Regions from separate parts of the Homo sapiens genome. Here region 2 is linked to region 1. Evidence: fine-mapped QTL for protein levels in blood plasma. A gene starts in region 1. The other region holds a variant in brackets. All regions are shown on one strand. Distances are from middle to middle.

What was found. PIP is the chance, under the fine-mapping model, that this variant and not a neighbour inherited with it causes the effect. Protein levels are from antibody-based Olink assays in UK Biobank. Linkage for the fine-mapping came from a reference panel and not from the study's own genotypes, which makes the PIPs less certain.
Region 2: its variant is fine-mapped to the plasma level of the GCHFR protein (UK Biobank, PIP 0.98).

The regions. Positions count from the first base shown.
Region 1 is chr15:40,759,402-40,768,351 of GRCh38, forward strand. It overlaps GCHFR (GTP cyclohydrolase I feedback regulator), which reads left to right and starts at 4,667. Exons shown (of 3, transcript NM_005258.3): 1 at 4,667-4,815; 2 at 6,426-6,520; 3 at 7,825-8,307. The coding sequence starts at 4,780. The coding sequence ends at 7,948. DNAJC17 (DnaJ heat shock protein family (Hsp40) member C17) reads right to left here. Exons shown (of 11, transcript NM_018163.3): 11 at 5,760-8,661. The coding sequence ends at 8,539. LOC124903474 (a long non-coding RNA gene) reads right to left here and starts at 1,867. Exons shown (of 2, transcript XR_007064599.1): 1 at 1,406-1,867; 2 at 1,073-1,325. It also overlaps the pseudogene SUMO2P15. RefSeq lists a silencer at 4,231-4,680 and enhancers at 4,347-5,212, 5,990-6,779.
Region 2 is chr15:41,139,657-41,148,606 of GRCh38, forward strand. No RefSeq gene overlaps it. Among named protein-coding and RNA genes, the nearest start is that of INO80, 28 kb to the left of the region's middle. The variant G/A (reference allele first, on the strand shown) is at 5,145.

The DNA.
Region 1 (8,950 bases):
GTACTCCTGGTGTTGCTTATGTGCTTGTTTGGTTGGATCTGGTACTGTTACCGCAACATGACCTCAATTCTTTTTTTTTTTTGAAATGGAATCTCACTTTGTTGCCCAGTGTGATCTGGGCTCACTGCAACCTCCACCTCCAGGGTTCAAGTGATTCTTGTGCCTTAGCCTCCCAAACAGTTGGCACTACAGGCACACGCCACCATGCCCGGCTAATTTTTCTATTTTTATTTTATTTTTTTCAGACGGAGTCTTGCTCTGTCACCCAGGCTGGAGTGTAGTGGCTTGATCTTGGCTCACTGAAATCTCCACCTCCCAGGTTCAAGCGATTCTCCTGCCTCAGCCTCCCGAGTAGCTGGGACTACAGGCACCCGCCACCAGGCCCAACTAATTTTTTGTATTTTTTAATAGAGACAGGGTTTCGCTGGGCAGAGAGCAGCTGCCCAGGCTGGTCTGAACGCCTGACCTCAAGTGATCCACCCGCTTTGGCCTCCCAAAGTGCTGGGATTACAGGCATGCGTCACTGTGCACAGCCAAATTTTTGTATTTTTAGTAGAGACGGGTCTTCATCATGTTTGCCAGGGTGGTCTCTAACTCCCAGCCTCAGGTGATATGCATGTCTTGGACTCCCAAAGTGCTGGGACTACAGGCGGGGGCCACTGCGCTGGCCCTCAGTTCTTTCAGGAAGTCCCAAAACCTGTGAAATTAACCATCCTCCCAGCTGCGCTTGCTTACAGAAACAAAGGCCAGGTGCCAATAACCAGGAACCAGCCACAAGATGAACTGAACTCAGCAGTGCTGCCTTGACCTGAGTTACTGCTTCACTGCTATACTAAAATCTCCACTCAGTGCGGAGAAATGTACCTTGCTAAGCACAAACAGTGCCAGGTGCAAAAAGAATCTACACACTCCAGCTGCTCCTGGAAGAACCCATCCAGGAATCCCTACCCCAGTCTTCACCTATCTGCCCAAAAAACCCTTAAGATCCCCCTTTACCCAATGTCCAGGGAGCAGGTGCTTTGAGCAGAAGCTCCCCTTTTCCATTCTTGACCAATGAACGTTTCTGCTCTGCTTTACTGAACCTGGTTTCATTTTATTGGTAAGAACTGCACTGGACGGGTCAAGCGACCCTCCCTTGAGGGCGGTAACAGTACCTGCTTTGTGAAGCAGCAGCTGCAGAGATTCTGGTGCTTGCCATGGCCATGGAAGCTCAAGGAAGAAGTTAAGACTGAGAACAACGATCATATTTGTTTGAAGGTGGTGTGGCAGGATAGTTCTGTGGCGCAGTTTAAGAGGCATACACTGCCTAGTAAACTGATGAGAGCCTATTGTGAATAACAGGATTTGTCAATGAGGCAGATCAGATTCGGATTTGATGGGCAGTCAATCAATGAAACAGACATACCTGCACAGTTGGTAATGGAGGATGAATACACAATTGACGTTTTCCTGCAGGAGACAGGTGTCTACTAAAAAAGGAACCTACTACTTTACTCCAAACCTCTGTTCTTACAGACCAAGATTACATCCTCAATTAGAAAACTGCAATTTGGTTCCACTACATCCCGACCAATATAGTATAGTTTTATTTCATTTTCACCTTCCCCTTTCCTTTGCTGTACATACAGTAATGGGTATGTGTGCACCAGCGTATTGCATTTGTGTTTTTGTTTGTTTTTTTGTAAAATGGCCAATGGTGTGTTCTGATTGACATCAGGTGGAGATGGGACTGGGAAAAATACTGCTTCTGTGAAAATACCCCCTTTCTCCATTCTTGGCATGCTCATTCAGCTCTTATCTTTTTTTCATATATTTATTTTAGATGAAGTCTTGCTCTGTTGCCCAGGCTGGAGTGCAGTGGTGTAATCTTGGCCCACTGCAGCCTCCGCCTGCCAGGTTCAAGCGGGACTACAGGCATGTGCTACCACATCTGACTTTTTTTTTTTTTTGAGACAGAGTCTCACTCAGTCACCCAGGCTGAAGTGCAGTGGCATGATCTCAGCTCACTGCAACCTCTGCCTCCTTGGTTCAAGCGATTCTCCTGCCTCAGCCTCCCGAGTAGCTGGGACTACAGGTGTGTGCCACCACGCCCAGCTAATTTTTGTATTTTCAGTAGGACAGGGTTTCACCATGTTAGCCAAGCTGGTCTCGAACTCCTGAACTCAAGTGATCCACCCACCTCGGCCTCCCAAAGTGCTGGGATTACAGGCATGAGCCACCGTGCCCGGCTCAGCTCTTGTCTCTATATTCCAGTGAGTTATATTTTGCTCTGTTTTAACTAAAAAATGACAACATAAAAATCCTTCCATACTTTATTCAACTGAAGAATTTTAATGTTTTTCATTTATCATTGTAAAAACCAAGGACAATTGTATAACTTAAAAAAATCCTTCTAATCAGTGGATGATTTTTGTACATAGCTTTCACATGTAGGGTAATCTGTCTTTAAGTAGGGATAAATTACTTAAAAATAAACCAAATCATGGCTCACTGCAGCCTCAACCTTCTGGGCTCAAGCGATCCTCCCACCTTGGCCTCCCAAAGTGCTTAGATTACAGGCGTGAGCCACTGTGTCTACAAAGTCTTGGGGTTTAAATAAATTTGGTTAAAATGAAAAAAAGTAAAATTGACTTTAATTTGTATTTCCTGTATTTCTAATGATATACTAGGCATCATGTTATATGTTTATTGGTCATTTCTATTTCCTCTTTTGTGAAGGGCCTATTCAAGTCAGTTACCCCTGTTTTTTCCATTGTTCATCTTTTTCTCACTGAGTTGTAGGAGCTCCTGGGCATCAATCTTTTGTTAGTTTTTTTTTTTTTTTTTTTTTTTGAGACGAAGTATTGCTCTGCCCCAGGCTGGAGTGCAGTGGCCCAACCAATCTCGGCTCACTGCAAGCTCCGCCTCCCAGGTTCACGCCATTCTCCTGCCTCAGCCTCCCGAGTAGCTGGAACTACAGGCGGCCCCCACCACGCCCGGCTAATTTTTTGTACTTTTAGTAGAGACGGGGTTTCACTGTGTTAAGCCAGGATGGTCTCGATTTCCTGACCTCGTGATCCGCCCGCCTCGGCCTCCCAAAGTTCTGGGATTAGCAGCGTGAGCCACCGCGCCCGGCCCTTTCGTCAGTTTTAACACATCCTTTGTTAAGCATGAATGTGTTTTATCTCTCTGGCTAACTTGTTAGGTCAGTGGGTAAGAGGGCAGGGGTAGGAACTACAGAATAATAAATTAGACCAGTTAAGGAACGTTTAGGATTACAACTTCCTGCTTCCCTTATAGCTCTCTCCACGTCTGTCAAAGTGTTGGAACGGCAGCATCCCCTATAAAGGCCCCTCTTAAAAAGTGAAGATTATTACCCTCCCATGGGAGGGAAGGCTACCTACAGGCTGTTTTTGTTTTGCTTTATTTTCTAGAAAACCAATCACAGGCCGGATGCGGTGGCTCACGCCTGTAATCCCAGCTCTTTGGGAGGCCAAGGCGGGTGGATCACCTGAGGTCGGGAGTTCGCCACCAGCCTGACCAAAATGGAGAAACGCCGTCTCTACTAAAAATACAAAATTAGCCGGGCGTCGTGGCGCAGGCCTGTAATCCCAGCTACTCAGGAGGCTGAGGCAGGATAATCGCTTGAACCTGGGAGGCGGAGATTGCGGTGAGCGGAGATCGCGCCATTGCGCTCCGGCCTGGACAATAAGAGCGAAACTCCATGTCCAAAAAAAAAAAAAAAAAAGAAAAGAAAAAAGAAAACCAATCACAACAAGGCAGATAAAGAAGGATGAGTTGTCAGATTTTGATAACTGCGGATGAGGGGCGTGGACACACGGTTGGGAACTCGCAGCCGCTCATTGGTGGCTGGTGCGGGGGAAGTTGTTTCATTTGCCCCAGGTGTTGCCCAGTGACCTCCTGCGCGTGCGCCGCGTCTGTCCAGCTGCGCGGGAAGCTCAGGGGAGGGAAGGCCAGGTTCCATCCATTCAGTCACTCCAGACCTGGCACCCAGCCAAGCGCGCGGTTCCTTTACAGACTTTCCTGCGGGTCCACAGAAATGCAAGGATCCGCCTCTGTGCTGGAATTAGAGTCTGGGAGGGGGAATGCACAGTGCGCCCTGGGTGGTATTTTAGTTGTCGCCTTCAGGGCTAGCTCCGAGCCTCGTGCCCCGGCCTCCTCAGCGCTTAAGGAATCTCTGGAGCGCATGTCTTGGCGAGGGGAAGTGGGGCCCCGTTGAAGCTGTCGAGGCGTCTCTGAGAGGGGTGGGCTGGGGCCTGGAGAGGCCTCCGTGAGGACGCCGTTTGCTCTGGGCTCTGCCTGGCAGGGGACTTTGGAACCTGGCCTGAAGTGTTCAAGAAGCGGGCGCGGGGGCAACACGCGCGCGGGGACGCAGTAAGATCACAGGCTGCAAAGAAAACAGCACTAAGCGTCCTGGAGGACGCTGGAGCTTCAGGATAGTGTCCTTCCAGGTCGTGGGACCGCCCCCTCCTCCCCGCACTCCACCTTCCCGCAACTGGATCACTCGGCGGAAGCCTCAGGTGGGCCCCGGGGTCCAAGTCCGCCGCCGGGAGGGCGGGGGCGGGCCCCGAACCGCCGACTGCAGGGCGCGTCACGGCAGCCGCTCCTGATTGGCGGCCACGGCGGTCACGGGCAAGGTGCCCCGGGATTGACGCCGCCTGTGGCCAGAGCCGGAGTAACGGGACTCCCAGCTGCGCGTCGCAGTCCCGACGCGAGAAGGGCTGGAGTCGGCGTCCAGCCTAGAGCCCCCGGTGGGAGCCAGGCCGGGACGCGTGCACCATGCCCTACCTGCTCATCAGCACCCAGATCCGCATGGTGAGTACCGGCCGCCTGGCGACTTGGAGCCGGGACCAGGCCCTAGGGGGCTGCGACTGCACCTTCATGCCTCCCTCCTGGGCTGCACCCACCGGGGACTGGACCGGGAACCCGCCCAGACACGCCCCCTTGGCCGGGGAGAGGGAGTGGAGAAGCGGGCTCAGCTCGGCTTCCGGGACTCAGCGAGCTCTGGCCGGCCTGAAGCCTTTATTGCCGCGAAGGGGCCCGGGTACGTGCGTCCCGGCAACAGGGCGACCTCCGGGCGCTTCCGGCTCCTGTCCTACCTGTCGGCGGGAGAGACCCAGGGAGCCCTGGCCTCACGCGCAGCACCTAGTGCCCTGCACAGAGCCGCTCCGCAGGGGAAAAAAGGGCGAATAACCTGAGAGAAAGAGGTTTGGAAAAGATAAGGACCTGCCAAGGCGCTAAAACCCCGGTGCCAAGTCCTTGACCCATAAACAGCAACTAGCTGCACCCTTAGGCACTTCCAGGAAGGGCTATCCCTGAAGCTTTAGGGAAGGAAGAAAAGAAAGAACACCCTGCTTGGAAAAAAGGAAGGCGAGAAGGGGCTGTGCAGTTAGAGGTGGGAACACCATGAGTTAGAAGTCACGTTCCTTTCTCTGGGCGCAGTTTCCTTATCTGTAAAAAGGTTCTGATTGCCCCTCAGGAGTCCCCTTTTAGCTTCAGAAAGACATGACGGGCAGCAAGGTGCTCTCTGCCCTTGCTCACTGCCCAGTGCTGGGGTGAACCAGCAAAGGGTACACAACCCCCTTGGTGGGTTCACCACGCAACAGAGAGCTCTTGCAGAGCCCTGGGCAGCGGTTTGTGAAGCAGCCATCTGCTCAGCTGCCAAAATGTGGATTCCTGGGTCCCTTCCCAGACCTCCTAAAACTCTGTCTGGGGCTTGGGAACCCATACTTGGAAATGGCCCCCCAAAGTGATTCTTATTTCTTAAAAGATATGGCTTTATTGATATGTAATGTGCATACCATAAATTCTTTGATTTAAAGTGTACAATTCAGTGTTGTTGTTTCTTTAGTGTACTCAGAGTTGTGCAACCATCACCATAATCAGTTTTAGAACATTTCTAATACCCCAAAAGGAAACCCTGTACCCACTGGCAGACACTCTTGATTTCCCCCAAGTCCCTCAGCCCTAGATAACCACTAATTACCTTTCTGTGGTAATGTGATCTGAGTCTGGCTTCTTTCATTTACATGTTTATTTTGTTTTGTTTTTTTGAAATGGAGTCTCACTCTGTCACCCAGGCTGGAGTGCAGTGGTGCAATCATGGCTCACTGCAGCCTCAAACTCCTCCCACCTCAAGCGATCCTCCCACCTCAGCCTCAGTAGCTGGAACTATAGGCTCGTGATACTTTGCCTGGCTAAAGCTGAGCTTTAAGGCACTAGGGAGGGCGCCTACATTGCTCCTCCTGATCATTGATGGGCTCCACCCCTTCACAGCTTGTGCTCAGCCCCTAAGAATCCTTGCTACTCTCTGTAGCCTTTACCTGAACCTTACTCAGGGCTAGCAGGCAGGGGAGGAAGGACAGGCAAGACCTTCCACCTCCTCCTGGCAGCCAGCCAAGCAGCCACTGTGGCTTACCTTGCAGGAGGTGGGCCCCACTATGGTGGGCGATGAACAGTCGGATCCAGAGCTGATGCAGCATCTGGGGGCTTCAAAGAGAAGAGCCTTGGGAAACAACTTGTAAGTAGCAGCCTCCCTCAGTATCCTCTCCCTGCCAGCCCCTAGACCTGCCTCTGCTCCCTTTATACAACCTCCAAGCCCAGGGACAGGGCCCAGCATCAGAGCCCCCTGCCTGCATCCTGGGGCTCTGTTCTCCGGAGGAGTTGGTCCCATCTGTAGCCTCTCCAACATCCCCCCTCTCCCCCACGAGGCTTGCTCTGAAAGCTTTCCACATCCTTACTGGAACCGCAGAAACAGAGTCCGTTCCCTGGGTCTAGGACTCCACTAGCAGACTGTTCCTTGCCCTGCCCTCTCCTAAGCTGGACCCCATCAAGGACAGACAGGCACAGAGAGAAAGGTTTTTGTCGTGAGGATCTGCATGAGTCGCAAAGCTAAGCCCTAGAAGCAGGGAGCAGGGAGCCTGCGTCCTACCTCCAGGGTGGCTGCTGCCTGGGGACCTAGCCATTTCCCTTGGCATTCTTCCTAATGCCTCCATGTCTAAACTGTGACTACTGCTTCCATTCCTCCTCTCACCCCTGGAGGCAGGGAGAACCCAAGCTACACAGGCTCTCTGAAAAGAGTTGTCAGAGTGAGTGCCAGTTCAAATCGGGGAAAGAGGAGGGCTGATCCCAGCCCCTGGGTCAAGGCTCGGGGACAGAAGCCAGCCCCCTCCCTTTGCCATGAGGCACTTGCCTCTCCATGCCCAGCTTGGGGCTTGAGCCCTTTGTCTGCTTCATGGTCTTTCAGCATCAATTAAACCTGACAGAAGGACTACCAGCACTCTCCATGCTAGGGAGTGGCGCACAGAGCCAGGAGCTACTGGGGCTCAGCCTTGTTGCTACAGAACTGCAGGACAGCCAGGGCAGTGAGGGGCCTGGAGGCTTATTTTTTTTTGAAATGGAGTCTCTGTCGCCCAGGCTGGAGTGCGGTGGTGCAATCATGGCTCACTGCAGCCTCAGCCTCCTCCTACCTGGAAGCCTGGGTGGGGAGCAAGCCCAGGGAGGGCGGCAGCAGGGCTGTGGTCAGACTAACATGGTCTACCATCTGGGACGCTGGGGAACCTGATTAACCCCTCTGTTTTCTCATCTATCAATGGCCACAACAGTGGCACCTTCACTAGCTTGTTGGGAAGAATAAATGAGATAGCTCGTGAAGTACCTAGAAGGGGAGGAGGCAGGGGGCGTGCACTTACCCCAGCGCCCAGCAAGCAGCCAGCAAGTGTGAGTCACTACAAGAGTGGCCAGGCTGCCTGCTGCAGACACTAGCTTTGTACCAGGAGCTTGCTGTGTGCCCCTCCTCACCCCCCCCATCCTGTCTCTTTGCAGTTATGAATACTACGTCGATGACCCTCCCCGCATAGTCCTGGACAAGCTGGAACGCAGGGGCTTCCGTGTGCTGAGCATGACGGGGGTGGGCCAGACGCTGGTGTGGTGTCTGCACAAGGAGTGACCTTCTCATGCTGATTTGCAGACGGGGCACCCCTGTGGAGGGGCTGCTGTGGGCCCTGACCTCCAAGCTCCTGCCTCACCGTCTGCCTTGCTCCTCTCTTCCCAAATCATCACCGCCATGGGCCCAGCCCCAAAGGGCAGTGAATGGCCTTCTCTGAAACCCTGCGTCAAGCAGTGGGAGAGGGCAGTGCCCGGTGCCCTGGTGCTCCCAGCTGCCCTCCTGCTTCGGGCCTGGGCCGAGGGCCTTGTGTAGGCCATGTTCCTCGGGCAGCTGCCCCGGGCCGGAGCTGGGCACTCCAGCGGCCCTGGCGCGTGGCTCCTGCATAGCTAGCCCAAGCCAATAAAGGGCTGTGATGAGTGGCTGCGCCTGTGCTCTGCTTGTGCACGGACTCTGGGACTCTCACCCTGCGGAGCGTTTCCCTGGGGGTCTGCCCACTTCCTGGGAGGGGCGCCAGGCCTGGGTGGAGCGCTCTGCGGCAGAGCCCAGCACCTTATACCTATGTATGGGATAGAGGTAAAATCTTAAAAAAAAAAAAAATTTATTGGTGACGTTGAAGAAAAGGGCTGAGGGGTGGATGGCTGGAGCTGGGGCTACGTAGGCGGCCCCTCCTGGTCTTCCTGCTGCATCCGTGCGATCAGCTGTTGCCGCTCGGCCGCCTGGCGCATGCGCATCATGACGAGGCTCTCGTAGTCCCTCTCTGACAGCACTGAGCCCTGTCGGACAGGGCAGGGACAGGGAGGGGTCAGGGACAGCAGGGCACAGCCTCACAGACTCCGAGTACGGTGCCGAGGCAGTGCTGCGTTCTAAGAGTCTCGGAGGGAGGACGGCAGAGGAAGGGAAGGAACCCGGAGCATCCTTTTGGAATCCTGGCTCGCCTGTGTCCCCCAGAACACGCCACCTTTGGCCTCCAGGCCGGCTTCTACCCAGCCAGCTCCCCCTCCCTTTCCCCAGGCCGCGTCAGCTCCGGTCCATCTGTTTCTCAGGAATCACCTGCGGGCCCTC
Region 2 (8,950 bases), 380 kb after region 1:
AGCCTGGGAAACGAGCAAAACTCCATCCCAAAAAAAAAAAAAAAAAAAGAAAGAAAGTGACCTTTGGTTGTCCTCACTGCTCATTAAATACTAATTGTAACACATTAGCATACTAAAGAACACTCCCACCAGTACCATGACAGTTTACAAATGCCATGGAAACACCCAGAAATTACCCTATATGGTCTAAAAAGGGGAGGAATCCCCAGTTGTGATTTCTGGGAAATCTCCACCTGTTTTCCAGAAAACTCATGAATAATCCACACCTTGTTTAGCATATAATCCAGAAATAACTATAAGTATACTCAGTTGAGCAGCCTATACATTGCTCCGCCTATGGAGTAGCCACTCTTTATTTACTTTTTTTTTTCACTTTGTAATATTTTAATTTTTAACTTTTGTTGGCACATGGTAGGTGTATTATATATTTATAGGGTACATGAGATTTTTTATTTTCACATTTAAGGTATTACAAATTGGAAGGACACAGTGGCTCACGCCTGTAATCCCAACACTTTGGGAGGCCAAGGTGGGTGGATCACCTAAAGTCACGAGTTTGAGACCAGCTTGGCCCACATGGTGAAACCCTGTTTCTACTAAAAATACAAAAATAAATGGGGAATGGTGGCGGGCGCCTGTAATCCCAGCTACTAGGGATGCTGAGGCAGGAGAATTGCTTGAACCCAGGAGGCAGAGGTTGCAGTGAGCCAAGTTTGCACCATTGCACTCCAGCCTGGGCAACAAGAGCAAAACTCCATTTCAAAAAAAAAAAAAAGATTTTACAAATTGATTTTGTGCTAAGAAAGATGAGCTTTAATTCTCTTGCCCTAACGTTTTTTTCTCCTTTTTTAAAAAAAAAAATTTATTTCCATAGATTTTGGGGGAAAAGTTGGTTACATGAGTAAGTTCTTTAGTGGAGATTTGTGAGATTTTGGTGCACCCATCACCCGAGCAGTATATGCCGAACCCAATTTGTAGTCTTTTATCCCTCAGCCCGTCCCATACTTTTTTTTTTTTTTTTTTTTTTTTTTGAGATGGGATCTCTTGTGCAGTGACACAATCGTGGCTCATTGAAACCTCCACCTCCCAGGATCAAGCGATTCTCCTGCCTCAGCCTCCCAAGTAGCTGGGATTCCAAGCACGCACCACCACACTCAGCTAATTTTTGTATTTTTAGTAGAGATGGGGTTTTGCCAAGTTGGCCAGGTTGTTCTCGAACTCCTGACCTCAGGTGATCTGCTTGCCTCAGCCTCCCAAAATGCTGGGATTACAGGAGTGAACCACCACTCCCAGCCTCATACTTTCTAATAAAATTGCTTTTGCTTTTCTCTGTTGCCTTACCCCAAATTCTTTCTTGTGAGAGGTCCAAGAACTATCTCTTGGGGTCTGGACTGGGAACCGTTTCAGTAATAGAATGAGAATAGCTGAAACAATTTTGAAGATGCAGTATAAAGGGAGAAGAATCAGTCTATCTAATTTCAAAACTTACTAGATAGCTAAATGAATTAATGCTGTATAGTATTGGTGGAGAGATAGACACGCAGATCTTGAAACTGCCTTTCCAAATATTATAACAGTGAGAAAATGACCGGGGCTGGGCGTGGTGGCTCACACCAGTAATCCCAGCAGTTTTGGAGGCCGAGGTGGGTGGATCACCTGAGGTCAGGAGTTCGAGACCAGCCTGACAAATACGGTGAAACCCCTTCTCTACTAAAAATACAAAAATCAGCCAGCTGTGGTGGTGTGCGTCTGTAGTCCCAGCTATTGGGGAGGCTGAGACAGGAGAATTGCTTGAACCTGGGAGGCAGAGGTTGCAGTGAGCCAAGATCACGCCACTGCACGCCAGCCTGTGTGAGCCAGACTCTGTCTCAAAAAAAAAAAAGAAAGGAAGGAAGAAAGAAAATAATGACCCTGTAAGAGGTAAGAACTAACCAACCCCCATCTTGCCTCTAAAGTCCAAACTGGGGGTTCTCTCTCTTGGCTTTGGAGTGCCCCCTCCCTCTGTCTCTGTACAGGGGAGTTTCTTCCTTCTTTCTTCCCCCTTCATCTTGCCTATTAAATTCTCTGCTCCTTAAAAACACAAATAAATAAATAAATAAAGTCCAAAATGTGGCCAGGTGCAGTGCCTCCCCCGGGCAGATAATGAGGTCAGGAGATGGAGACCATCCTGGCCAACATGGTGAAACACCATCTCTACTAAAAATACAAAAATTAGCCAGGCATGGTGGCGGGCGCCTGTAATCCCAGCTGCTCGGAAGGCTGACGCAGGAGAATCCCTTGAACCTGGGAGGCGGAGGTTGCAGTGAGCCGAGATCGTGCCACTGCATTCCAGCCTGAGCAACAGAGGGAGACTCCATCTCAAAAACAAAGCAAAAAAACCCACCAGGTTAGGAGGATGAGATGAATTTTACTAAGGTGTACAGATAAGTGATTACCAGCCATTATTCTGGAGATCACAAAATTTACAAGTTCCCCAATTACTCTTGCAGATAACATCACTATTACAGAACCTAAGATTGGCCTTTTGAGATATTTCTTTTAGGCTTTTGCATTTCTGAGGACCCATAGCCCCACCCGGATCTGTGACTCTTAACTTAACTTCTCCTGTGACCCCACCCAGAAGCTGACTCACCACACAAGGACCGTTTTCCACACCCCTATGAATGCATCCACAACCAATCAGTAGTACCCATTCCCTTGCCTCCCAAACTATCCTTTAAAAACCCTAGCCTCGGCCAGGCACAGTGGCTCATGCCTGTAATCCCAGCACTTTGGGAGGCCGAGGTGGGTGGAAGGCTTGAGGCCTGGAGTTCCAGACCAGCCACGGCCAACATGGTGAAACCCCATCTCTACTAAAAATACACAAATTAGCCAGGCCGTGGTGGCACATGGCTGTAGTCCCATCTACTCAGGAGGCTGAGGATGGCTTGAACCCAGGAGGCAGAGGTTGCAGTGAGCCGGGATTGCGCAACTGCAATCCAGCCTGGGCAACAGAGCAAGATTCTGTCACAAAACAAAACAGAACACAACACAACAAAAACCCCTAGCCTCTGAATTTTCAGAGACTGATTTGATTAAGAATAAAGCTCTGGTCCCCCATTTAGCCAACTCTACATGTATTAAACACTTTACTCCAATTCCCCTGCCTTGATAAATATACCTATGCAAATATCCTGACTCTTAATCAGTTTTATTGACATTTAATTCACATAACAAAATCACCTTTTAGTGGTTTTTAGTAGATTCACAATTTTAGAACATTTCATCACTCCAAAAAGACCACCCATAAAACAAGAGCAAAATTCCATCTCAAAAAAAAAAAAAAAAAAGAAAGAAACATCTAGGCCAGGCATAGTGGCTCACACCTGTATTCCTAGCACATTGGGAGGCTAAGGTGGGCAGATCACCTGAGGTCAGGATGTTACCAGTAGAAGGTGTCCAGGTTCTTGGCATCTCAAACAAAGAATTGGACAAAACGCACAAACAAAGCAAGGAAAGAATGAAGGGATTTATTGAAAATGAAAGTAGCTAGGCAAGGTGACTTGAGCCTGTAATCCCAACACTTTAGGAGGCCAAGGCCGGGGAACACTTGAGGCCAGGAGTTCAAGACCAGTCTGGCCAACAGGCTGAAACCCTATCTCTGCTAAAAGTACAAAAATTAGCCAGACGTGGTGGGCGTGCCTGAATCCCAGCTACTCGGGAGGCTGATGCAGGAGAATGGCTTGAACCCAGGAGGTGGAGGTTGCAGTCAGTCGAGATCATGTCACTGCACTCCAGCCTGGATGACAAAGGAAGACTCTTTCTCAAAAAAAAAAAAAAAAAAAAAAAAGGAAAATGAAAATGCAATCTACAGTATGGGAGGGGGCCTGAGCATAGGGGTTCAAAGGCTCTGCTACAGAATTTTTGGGAGTTTAAATACCCCCTAGAGGATTCCATTGGTTACTTCGGGTACACCCTGTGTAAATGGAGAGGATGAAGTAAAGTTACAAAGTCATGTACAGCATAGGCCCTATGGAGAGGATATTTCCTGTTGTAGCTGAAGTGTGAATCGGCCTTATGTTCTCTGCCTCCAGACCCTATTTTCCTGCCTCATCTCCCCGCTGAGAGATGTGATCCCCATAAATCTTTATGGGAGGCAGAGGGATTAATGGTTTTTTGTTTGTTTGTTTCTTTGTTTTCCTCTAACTGCTTCATTCTGGCTTGGGGCATAGTCCTTACCTATTGGGATCACAGAACTTTTGCCCTGTTCTTTCTAGTGAAGGCAGGGTAACTTCTTTTTTTTTTGAGATGGAGTCTCGCTCTGTCGCCCAGGCTGGAGTGCAGTAGTGCAATCTCTGCTCACCACAACCTCTGCCTCCCGGGTTCAAGTGATTCTCCTGTCTCAGCCTCCCAAGTAGCTGGGATTACAGGCACGCGACCCCATGCCCAGCTAATTTTTCTATTGTTAGTAGAGATGGGGTTTCACTATGTTGGTCAGGCTGGTCTTGAACTCCTGACCTCGTGATCCACCTGCCTCAGCCTTCCAAAGTGCTGGGATTACAGGCATGAGCCACCGCTCCCGGTCCAGCAGGGTAACTTCTTTATGGCCAGGGGTGGTGTCTTCACCTGGAACTGGCTGGAACTTCTGTTGCATGATCATCTGAAACTCGATGGTCTCTAGGCAAGAGGAAATGAATTTGATTAAAAGATTTAATGGAAACTTCAAGGAGTGGATATCTATGCTGTCAGAAATGTTTGTTATAGAGATTTGCAGTAAAAAAAAAAAAAAAAAAAAAAAACACCTGGGCCAGTGCGGTGGCTCATGCCTGTAATCCTAGCACTTTTGGGAGGCTGCGGCGGGTGGATTGCCTGAGCTCTGGAGTTCGAGACCAGCCTGGGCAACACGGTGAAACCCCGTCTCTATTAAAATACAAAAAAATTAGCCAGGTGTGGTGGCATGCACCTGTAGTCCCAGCTACTTGGGAGGCTGAGGCAGGAGAATCGCTTGAACCCAGGAGGCGGAGGTTGCAGTGGGCGGGGAGCGCACCACTGCACTCCAGCCTGGGCGACAGAGTGAGACTCCGTCTCCAAAAAAAAAAAAAAAAAAAAAACACAAAAAACCTGATCTGTTCTAGAACCCCGGTGTTTCCTTAAAGTCTTAGCAG[G/A]AGGGATTCCATTTTAGTTTGGTTTGGTCTCTTGGTGCCTAGTGCATGCACTCAGTCCATAACAATGACCTGCCAGAATTTTGTTTACTATTAGGAGGGTAGTACCAAGAGTTCAGAGTATGATCCTTATCCAAGGTCCCCATAAACCAAACCTTCTAAAATCAAATAGATAAAAGAATGAACTAGATAAAGAGTTTACTCACTTGACTAGGCAATTTCTTCATCAGTCCCCTACCACTGAATCTCTATAATCTTCATTTGATGTATTTCTCCACAGGCCACAAGTGCCAGCAGCTGCACAGATACTTCTCTGTTTAGCCAATTATATCATAACTTTTATAAGAGAATTTAGTGTCTGTTGTGTAACTGTGGCCTTTACAGTAGAATTTGCTATAGAACTTAACATGAGGGAAACATTTCTTTTTTTTTTTTCCCCTAGATGGAGTCTTGCTCTGTCTTCCAGAGCTGGAGTGCAGTAGTGCAATCTCTGCTCACTGCAACCTCCACCTCCGAGGTTCAAGCAATTCTCCTACTTCAGCCTCCCAAGTAGCTGGGATTACAGGCACATGCCACCACGCCCGGCTAATTTTTGTATTTTTAGTAGAGATGGGGTTACATCATGTTGGACAGGCTGGTCTAGAACTCCTGACCTTGTGATCTGCCCACCTCAGCCTCCCAAAATGCTGGGATTACAGGCGTGAGCCACTGTGCCCAGCCAAGGGATCCATTTCTAATCATTGCTTCTTTTACATTAAACCATGGAAAAAGGACCTAACAAATGATGCCCTTTCTTTTAGAAGAGTGAAGGACTCCTGGCAATGTTCTCTTTAACCCATGATGTGGGTTAAGAGGAGTGAACGAGGGCTGGGTGCGGTGGCTCATACCTGTAATACCAGCACTTTGGGAGGCCAATGAGAGCAGATCACCTGAGGTCAGGAGTTTATGAGACCAGCCTGACCAACATGGAGAAACCCTGTCTCTACTAAAAATTAAAAACTAGCCAGGCTCGGCCAGGCATGGTGGCTCACGACTGTCATCCCAGCACTTTGGGAGGCCGAGGCAGGCGGATCACGAGGTCAGGAGATCGAGACCACCCTGGCTAACATGGTGAAATCCCGTCTCTACTAAAAATACACACACACACACATGCGCGCGCGCGCGCGCGCACACACACACACACACACACACACACACACACACACACACAAATAAGCCGGGCGTGGTAGCGGGCGCCTGTAGTCCCAGCTACTCGGGAGGCTGAGGCAGGAGAATGGCTTGAACCTGGGAGGCGGAGCTTGCAGTGAGCTGAGATAGTGCCACTGCACTCCAGCCTGGGTGACAGAGTGAGGCTCTGTCTCAAAAATAAATAAATGAATAAATACTAGCCAGGCTTGGTGGCGGGCGCCTGTAACCCCAGGTACTTGGGAGGCTTGAACCCAGGAGGCAGAGGTTACGGTGAGCCGAGATTGTGCCATTGCACTCCAGCCTGGGTGAGAAGAGGGAAACTCTGGCTGGGCATGGTGGCTCACAGCCTGTAATCCCAGCACTTTGGGAGGCTGAGGCGGGTGGATCACCTGAGGTCAGGAGTTCGAGACCAGCCTGACCAACATGGAGAAACCCCCCTCTCTACTAAAAATACAAAACAATTTAGCAGGGTGTGGTGGCGCATCCCTGTAACCCCAGCTACTCAGAAACTGAGTCAGGAGAGTCGCTTGAACTCTGGAGGCAGAGGTTGCAATGAGCCGAGATGGTGCCGTTGCACTTCAGCCTGGGCTATAAGAGCAAAACTCTGTCTCAAAAAAAAAAAGAGGAGTGAACCAATGTTTTGTTTTTGACTTATTATGAGGCAACGTATGAACGTATGTACCATTAAAGTTTCTTATCCACATTGGGCCTTCTTTTTTTTTTTTTTTTTTTTTTTTTTTGAGATAGAGTCTCACTCTGTTGCCCAGGCTGGAGTGCAGTGGTGCGATCTTGGCGTACTGCAACCTCCGCCTCCCGGGTTCAAGTGATTCTCCTGCCTCAGCCTCCTGAGTAGCTGGGATTACAGGCGTGGGCCACCATGCCTGGCTAATTTTTGTATTTTTAGTAGAGACGGGGTTTCTCCATGTTGGTCAGGCTGGTCTCGAACTCCTGACCTCATGATCCGCCCACCTCGGCCTCCCAAGGGCCTTCATTTTTTAATCTATTAATGTATAAGGTTATCCACGTATAAGGCTGGCTGCAAACTCCTTTACAAATAAAAGTATACCCCATTAGTGCCCATAACAGACCCCTTTTTCACTTCTATTGTTTATAGAGGCATAAGCAAGAAAAAAAATATTCAAAGATAAAACGTCATGATAGTAGAAGTCTTCACCTGTGAACTTGGGAAAAGCTGTTCACATCAAGGATGACATCCTCTTCTTGGGAGAATTTTCCCTGGTTAGTTTTACCTTAAGGGATCCAGTGGGTGCACAGCTCTAAGAGCACGGAGGACCCTTCTCAGCTGTGAGATTATGAACCCATTCAAGGTCCCGAAGTTTTCTTGTAGTGTGGAAAGGACAGTTATTCTCTGATGTTTCCAGAAGATTCAAACTATAAAAAACTTTCTTTACCTGGTGAAAATACACTGTACCGTAATAATCTACTGTTATAACATCAGCCCTCTTGCATGAGAAAGCTTTCATACAAGAAGAAAACATACATTGAAAATAAAAATCAGCTGGGCGCGAAGGCTCACCCCTTTAATCCTAACAGTTTGGGAGGCCGAGGCGGGTGGATCACTTGAGGTCAGGAGTTCGGGCCCAGCCTGGCCAACATGGTGAAACCCTGTCTCTACTAAATATACAAAAATTAGCCAGGCATTGTGGTGGGTGCCTGTAATCCCAGCTATTCCAGAGGCTGAGGCAGAAGAATCACTTGAACCCGGGAGGCGGAGTATCACTTGAACCCGGGAGGTGGAGTTTGCAGTGATCTGAGATCGCACCCCTGCACTCCAGCCTGGGTGACAGAGCAAGACTCTGTCTCAAAACAAACAAACAAAAACAATTTCAGTGTTAGCTGAACATGAAAGTATTTTCTTGATATTTAATTTTTTGTTGTTGTTGTTCTACTTGGGTTAGTAGCTTCATACAAGGAAATTTGGTTATTTCTGTAGTTTACAATAACTTAACATAATAACTATAATTGTGATTGGTACCATATACTTAGACATTAGAATTTTAGAAATCCCATAAAATTTTGGGATATATATTAGTATTATTCACACAAATACAACCTAAAGAAGATTGAACATCATTTTGGCAATTCCATGTACCTAAACAGGTCAAATAATCCTGTTTACCTCTTTTCTGGATGTTTTCAGGGGCCCTCTGATCCATCCAGAAAGCCAAGCATTAGGAAAGATAATTTTGAAACGGAAGTTTGATTTTGGAATTCCAGATTACCATAAATTATTTATTTTGCCAAAGTGATGACTCAGAAATTTTAAAGAAGCAAAAGCCTTTTATAACCTTTAACAACAAAACAAAATACATTGTATTCTATTGTTTTTACACACCTTGCATGAACAACCATTTCTAGTAGTCTTTTTTTCTTTTTTTTTGAGACAGAGTCTTGCTCTGTTGCCCAGACTGGAGTGCAGTGGTACCACCTGGGCTCACTGCAACCTCCGCCTCCCAGGTTCAAGTGATTCTCCCTCCTCAGCCTCCTGAGTAGCTGGGACTACACGTGCACACTACTGTGCCCAACCAATTTTTGTATTTTCAGTACAGATAGGTTTTCACCATGTTGGCCAGGCTGGTATCGAACTCCTGACCTCAGGT